Linked DNA regions of Homo sapiens. The protein of the gene in region 1 interacts with the protein of each later gene in a pairwise test. Each region holds a gene or a part of one and is shown on either strand. Other genes may lie near its edges. The genes, in order: SH3GL3 and ARHGEF6.

Evidence for each region.
Region 2: the proteins of SH3GL3 (region 1) and ARHGEF6 interact in a two-hybrid assay, tested with the Homo sapiens proteins (one large-scale study listed by BioGRID and IntAct).

What each region holds. Positions count from the first base shown.
Region 1 is NC_000015.10:83,586,615-83,590,438, forward strand, and holds part of SH3GL3 (endophilin-A3), read left to right. Parts: exon of another isoform or gene 1-361; intron 362-368; coding exon 369-472; intron 473-743; exon of another isoform or gene 744-899; intron 900-2,047; coding exon 2,048-2,157; intron 2,158-3,824. UniProt on the Homo sapiens protein: Implicated in endocytosis. May recruit other proteins to membranes with high curvature.
Region 2 is NC_000023.11:136,679,614-136,683,437, reverse strand, and holds part of ARHGEF6 (rho guanine nucleotide exchange factor 6), read left to right. Parts: intron 1-593; coding exon 594-680; intron 681-1,469; coding exon 1,470-1,548; intron 1,549-2,561; coding exon 2,562-2,707; intron 2,708-3,765; coding exon of another isoform or gene 3,766-3,777; coding exon 3,778-3,824. UniProt on the Homo sapiens protein: Acts as a RAC1 guanine nucleotide exchange factor (GEF).

The DNA.
Region 1 (3,824 bases):
TCTTTTGCTAAATGTTGGCTTCGTTTGTAACTGGAAGAGCTTTATCTCTCTGTTTTCAGATCCATGAGCTTTATAGCATAGAAAATCTGCTGAGAAAAATCATCATCTAATTGGAAAAACAGGCATTTTATTGAGTTAAATCAAATTCATAATCACAAATAAATTTGAACATGTTTTTCCAGCATTTATAGCTCCATACCATGACCTGTATGATTATTATACAGAGCTCCTACATGAAATTAAATGAAATGGACCAAGGCAGACACTGGTCTTCCCTGCAAAGCTAGGTCTTTGCTGCTGGTCTCCTCTCTCTCTGGACATTACACAGGCTCGGGCCTCCATGGAATAATTTTGCACTTCTGCTGCAGGTAGAACAAGTCAGCCAGTTGGCTGTGTTCATAGAGGCAGCATTAGACTATCACAGACAGTCCACAGAGATTCTGCAGGAGCTGCAGAGCAAGCTACAGATGCGGTAAGCACCTCCACGTTTCTTACAAGCCAAGGGCTGCGGAGGTAACATCTATTGAAATCCATCTGTCTGTCTCTCCATCTCTCCATCTCCCCCTTCCCCTGCCTCATTCTGTTTTGAATTTTCTTTCACTGGCTTTCATGGTTGGATGTGGGATGGGACTGAGATAATAAGTACTGGCTTTGGCCAGTAGGATAGAACTGGGAAAAGGGACCTGGCAGCTTTTCTCCTTTTTCTTTTCATTAAATCCCTTTTTTTTGTGACCCGTGTTTAGGGCAACTAACCAAGTTGCTCTCCCACCTGGGACATCAACCCCTACAGAACTACCCTGGCTTCATTGCTGATTTGATGAGAGTTTAACTCCCCATTCACAAAGGGATGGAAAACATCCAGAGCTATGGAAAAAAGTGAGATGCTGTATGGAAAATATGTAAATATCTGTAAAAAAAAAAAAAAAAAAAAAAGGTAGTGCCTTCACTTCACCAGTACGAATTTCAGGATATGTTCATAATATTGACTAGTATTGAAAGAGTCAAAATATTGACAAATTTCAGGCTGTGTTCATAATATTGACAGGTATTGAAAGAGTCAAAAATATCTTCTGAACAATCAAAGAAAGGTTTCTGCATTCCTTGTGAATTTAATCATAGATGTAGTCTATACTTTTCTGAAAATTAGTAATATTATATATAGTCTGCATGGCAACCCTGTTTATTAAAATATTTTAAATTAGGTTTGATAACAGAAAATTGTTTTACACAGGATTATGGTAATGCATAAATTTGGAGGGATTTTTACTTAAATCAATGACGTAGTTACCTAGGGAAGACAAAGATGTGTTCAGTCCCTGAAGCATCCACTTCTGCAGGCAGATAGTTTACCTGTTACTGACAGGAGTGTATTTTCATAATTCTATCATAATCTATAAGAGTAGAGTGAGGGAGAAGGCAGCTCCCATCACTGGGTGCCGACCGCGTCCCAGGCACTTGCTGGATGCCTCAGAGACTTGATGAAGAAAATTAGTCTTTTGTTTTGTTTTGTTTTGTTTTGAGATGGAGTCGTGCTCTGTTGCCCAGGCTGGAGTGCAGTGGCGCCATCTTGGCTCACCGTAACCTCTGCTCACTGCAGCCTCCACCTTCCAGTTTCAAGAGATTCTCCTGCCTAAGCCTCCCGAGTAGCTGGGATTACAGGCGCCCACCACCATGCCTGGCTAATTTTTGTATTTTTCGTAGAGATGGGGTTTCACCATGTTGGCCAGGCTGATCTCGAACTCCTGACCTCAGGTGAGCACCTTGGCCTCCCAAAGTGCTGGGATTACAGGCATGAGCCACCATGGCTGGCCCAATTAGTCTTCTTCAAGATGAATTTCACTCACAAGCTCAAATAGGGAGTTGAAAAACTGCATTTGTGATATCACCTCCATCACTTCGGGCTACTCAAGAGTCAGTGTGTAAAAATCGTCCCTTTCATGACCACTGGCTGTAACCTAAGTTCCTGTGCTCAACAAGGCAGAGAGGATGTGTGTTTGGAAAGCTTTCAACATCAGATGTCTGGCTCATCTTACGATGTGTGTTACAGAATATCAGCTGCATCCAGTGTCCCCAGACGAGAATACAAGCCAAGGCCTGTGAAAAGGAGTTCTAGTGAGCTCAATGGAGTTTCCACCACCTCTGTAGTGAAGACGACAGGTAAGTTGACCATTCTAATATGCTAAGTGTGCCTTTAGTAAAGCACTTCTAGAAACACTTATTTACTGCTTGTTTCTGGGTCAGTGAATACACACAGACCCTGGATATCTTTCTTTGGTTGTTTGGTAAATTCCCTTTTCCCCTAAACGTGCCCCTTTTTTCTGTTCCCTGGGGAAGAATTCTATCACTTATATAATGTAGCATTTAGAACCTTGGCCATAGAACCATTATGGCTACATCATCCTTTATTTTTTTAACTCTTTGAAAATATTTTCTTAATTTATTTTTAAGTTGAAATTAGCATTTTTGAGCAACTGCTATATGCTAGATACTATCTTAAGTGCTGCATCGTTATTTTTTATTAAACAAGTGATGCAAATGTGTCTTTTAGTAAAATAATCAAACAGAAAAAAATTGGTAAAATAATCAAACAGAAAAAAAAATTTAATGGTATAAGTCATTCTATAGTCTCTTGTGATCACCTACACCATCGCAGTTCGCTTCCTAGATGTAGCCACTGTTAAAAAAATTTGGTATAACTATTATCATATCTATTGAGGTACATAAATATACACATAAACAGCGTTTTGGATTTTTTTCTGTTTTTTCTTTTTTTCTTTTTTGAGACAAAGTCTTGCTCTGTCACCCAGGCTGTAGTGCAATGGCATGAACATGGCTCGGTGCAGCCTTGACCTCCTGGGCTCAAGCAATCCTCCTGCCTCAGCCTTCCATGTAGCTGGAACTACAGGTGTATGTGACCCTGCCAGGCAAATTTTTTTATTTTTTGTAGAGACAAGGTCTTACTTTGTTGCCCAGGCTGGCCTGCAACTCCTGGGCTCAAGCAATCCTTCTGCCTCGGCCTTCTGAAGTGCTGGGATTATAGGCATGAGCCACTGTACCCAGCCTTTTTTCTGTTTTTTAAATGCGAGATTATACTAGGCATATTGTTTGGCAGTTTGCTTTTTAAAATGTATCACTGTTTCTTCGAGTTATTTCCATATCATGCATATAGATCTATCCCACTGTTTTAACAGCTTCATAGTTTTCTATTATACCATTTCCCTATTGGTGGACGTTAAGGTTTTTTCCAGTTATTTGCTACAGTGAGTATCCTTTATCACTGTGCTGGCTACATTACTATTAAAGCATGAACACCTGCTTCCCCACACCCATGCCAGTAGACTTCCATTTCTGCCAAGCACTCATGAGAAAAAAATGGTATCCAGTCTTAATTTGCATTTTCATGATTATTAGTGAGGGTGAACTTTCTTTTCTATATTTTAATTTGTATTTCCTTATGTCTGAATTGTCTGTTTATGTCATTTATTTGTGTTTTTTGGGAGTAGTTTGCTTTGTCTTATTGTTTTATAGGAGCTCTTTCCATATGAGGATATTAATAATTTTTTTCCTAGTTTGTCATTTATCTTTAAACTTTGTTTTTGGAGTGCCTTGTCCCTTTGTTGTTTTTGCTGTTGTTTGCTTTGTTTAGTTTTGCTTTGAGTATACAGAAGCTTTTATTTTGATGTAGTCAAATGTGTCTGTCTTTTGCTTGTGACTTTACATTTTGTGCCCTGTCATGATTACATTTTGTGCCCTGTTGTGAAAAGTCTTCCTATCCCTGAAGTTATTCTTCTACAGTTTTCTACTACTTTGAATAATCTTTTCTT
Region 2 (3,824 bases), on another chromosome or scaffold:
GTGGTGAGCCGAGATCGTGCCATTGCACTCCAACCTGGGCAAAAAGAGCGAAACTCCGTCTCAAGAAAAAAAAAAGAAAGTGTATCTACTTTTATGTTTTACATAAATCCAATAATTATCTTGTTCTTAATGACCAAAGCTAATTTTATGAATACGACTTTAACAAACATGTTAGAGCATACTAAATCTCTTATCACCTGAAAACCCCTTCATCTTGCCATTTTTTCAAAGTAAAATATATTTTCATTTTGTGAACCTGGAGACTTATTTTGTGCCCAGGTCTAGCACATCTCACTGGCTGCATAAACTGTGGTGACTTCTCAGGCTTTCATACATGGAAAGCAAGCATGGTTATTTGTATTTAATTGTTATGTATAAGAAGAAGAGAGATAAACTGTGGGTTTATGTCCATGTCAAAGTAAAATTCAACTAGTTTTGTGTTTTCAAGTTGGGTATCTTTTTTAAAAAAAAAATTACCGTTAATGTTTCAGTTGTTTATATAAGGTCTATGTTATAAGGCAGTGATTCCAGAAATTCTCAACAGATAAAGTGTCCAATTCTGTTCTTCATGTATTATTTTCATTCCCTCTCAGGAAAAAGAGGAGCGGTACCTTATGTTATTTTCAAATGTCCTGATAATGTTATCTGCAAGTCCTCGGATGAGTGGCTTTATCTATCAGGTTAGTAAATTTCATATAAAACACATAGCAGACCCCCTAACGAAAACAGGTTTCCATCCAGATGCAATATCTCCACTATGGCATTAAAAGCTCAAGCCAGGAGAACCAGAATGTTCTGACCCTTCATTGTAATTAAAGAGCTTGTAAGAGCAGATGTTCCTTAGATCAAAGACCTTTGTATTAGTATAATGAGTTTATCTTGAATATATCCACCGCTTTAGTTATGCACTAGGTTTTGCATGCATAAATGGAAACTAGATAAATTAGCAGCAGTATTGTACAGGCCCATGTCATTATTGCTGAGAAAACATAAAGCTGGGACCTGCTCCTATGTTTGTCTTATTATAGTCACAGCACATGATTCAGGCTTCTAAGAAGCATGTTATTAAACTCCTTAGGAAATTAAATGTCCCTCAGTCAGCTCCCAACATATAGAGTATTATAAGTTACTATTGCCTGTTCCATCTTGGCCTGGCAATTAATAATTTTCATAACATCTGAGCCTTCACTTTTTTTTACTGATTCTTATGAAAATGTGTTAGAAAAGTAAACTGCTTTGTAAATCCTGATCTTATAGTTTAGGGTGTGTTAGCCAAACACAATCCACATTTTCCCCTTGCTTTCTTAGTCTGATTAAAATTTAGAGCAGGGAAACATATTATCTATTGACAGACTGGAGAAATACGTCTAGCCATAGTTTTGCCTTGCTGAGAGGGTCAGAAAATCTAAGTGAAATAAACAGAGACCTGTATAACTGCAGAATTAATGAGAATGTTCTTTTTCTAATAGGGAAAAATACCAATAGCAGGAACGGTGGTGACTAGATTAGATGAAATTGAAGGGAATGACTGCACATTTGAAATCACTGGTAGGTAATTTTCTCTTTTTCATGTAACTACTTCCAATTCTTTTTGGAATGAAGGGGAATTTAATAAATAAATGCCATTATTTCCTGTTACATAGGCCACGAGCAAATTTTATGCGGGCATGGCAAAGTATATTCCATTTCCTGGGATAATTAGGGTACAGCAATAGCACAGAGAAGTCTCCTCTCATTCAAAAGCCATGGCTTTGCCATTAGTTTCAATTTTCTGTTGCATGAGAGCTACTTGTGAGAGCTAAGGAATAACGAAATGGACTGATGTAAACGCAATTTTCTTCCCCTCTGTCATTTGTTCCCTGGTGGCAGAGGAGCCAAAGATATGGACTTTTATCAGCAATTTTATCATCAGCCCATGAGTTAGTAAGATTTGGTTGTATTTCTAAAAAGTTCTGAAAAGCCATCAAATTTTCTTCACAAATTGAGCATAATGCCAGGCTTCAGTAATGCCCCCTGACATTTTAGCTTATGATCCCTTTTGCCAGGTCTGTGTCATTTATATGTAGTGGCCTGACTGTTGGTGCTGATATGGCACAGTGGCTAAGACTGGGATCATGGCCTTACCCTCTTCTTTCCCAAGAAGGAGCTTAAGGTTTGGTGTTTGCCAAAAGGTTGTAAATAGTCTTAGTTGGATCTTGTTCCAACTTTGATACCAGGGGAACCAGGACAATATTCCCACTTTAGACTTAACTAGATGGACTATGTGCTTATGTTTTTGGATTGCAAGTTTGTTTATGGTGAAGTTTTACACTACTTTTAAGCTTCTGTAAGCAGTAAAAATCAAGGACAGTTTTCTAAATCAGACATGAATATTTATTTACTTTGTAATCACAGGTTATCTGTTTCTGATATAGAAATTTCAGCAGGGTTATCCCATAGGTATGAAAACCCCTGAAAATACACACCCAAGTCCTAGTTGTATGAAGTCTATTTATGAATGGGACAAGCTCAAGTTTTTCCTTGCCTTTTGTTTTCAAACTGATCATAATTGGGGGATGTAGGTAACACAGTGGAGAGAATTGTGGTCCATTGTAACAACAACCAGGACTTCCAGGAATGGTTGGAGCAGCTGAACAGACTGATCAGAGGACCTGCCTCTTGCAGTTCATTATCCAAAACCTCATCGTCATCATGTAGTGCTCATTCTGTAAGTAGTCCATGTGTTCTGTCCAGAGATTATTGAGTCTTTCGTCAACTCCTGCCTGCTGGAGACTTACAAGAAGCAGCGAGCACACCCTTAGTCTTTTGGGCAGCCTATATTTGTAGATTTTGAAGTACAGTTAAACCTCACTCATTCTGATTTCTCATTATGAGGCCCATCCAAATTAATGAAAAGGTTTACTTAGAGTGTGCAGTTCTGTTTGACAGTATTCAGATACCCCAACTAACTGCTAGCAAAGTATTTCTAACCAGAAGTCCTGCTAAAATATTTTAATGATAAGCAAGGCTTATTTCCATGAGCAATGGTTATTCTCCTACTAACAGTGGGCTAAGTCGAAACAAATAGTTTACCTCCCTAAGTACTTAAACATCTCCATGTCATCTCACTCATGCTCTCACATTTGCTCAGTAACCTTCTTCAAAGGTAAACTTTTAGCATTATCTCCTTCTGAGTTATCACAAATTTAGACATTGGAATTTGAATTGATGAGATTTTACTGTACTTGCTGAGTGAGATGGAAGATATGCTGTGTTGTTTGTTAACATACAAACCTATGATGCCAAAATTCCAGTTTTGAGGACTGTGTGTTGTGGTTGGAAGAATATGGACTTTGGCTTCAGATCTGGGTTCAAATCTTGGCTTTGCCAATTACTAGTTAGTTGCTTCCCTTGACTGAGTCTATGTCTTAGGCTGTTCTCATGAAATAACCTATTTAAGCACCTACTAGAGTGCCAAACATATCACTGAACTCAAATGTTGACTGCTACTCCATTTTCCTTCCTTACAGAGGAAAGAAAATTAAATTAATTAAATTCCAGATGAGAAAGAGAGGACAGGATCATGGAATGTTGAGTCAATTTTGTGCTGTTTCTTAGAGACCCGATAATCTGGACTGGAAAGAACCAGTTCTCAAACTAGAGACTTTTGTTTTTCCATCTATCCCTTTCTATGGCTGTCTTTGCTAATCCAATGAAGCTATTGTTGTTCTCTCACTGTGTGGCACAAGGTCGGGTTCAGATGGCAGATTGCCAACATCTCATCAGACATTTTCCCAGTCTTTTAGCTCTACCGGACAGCCCCGAGGACCCTTGGAGCCTCCTCA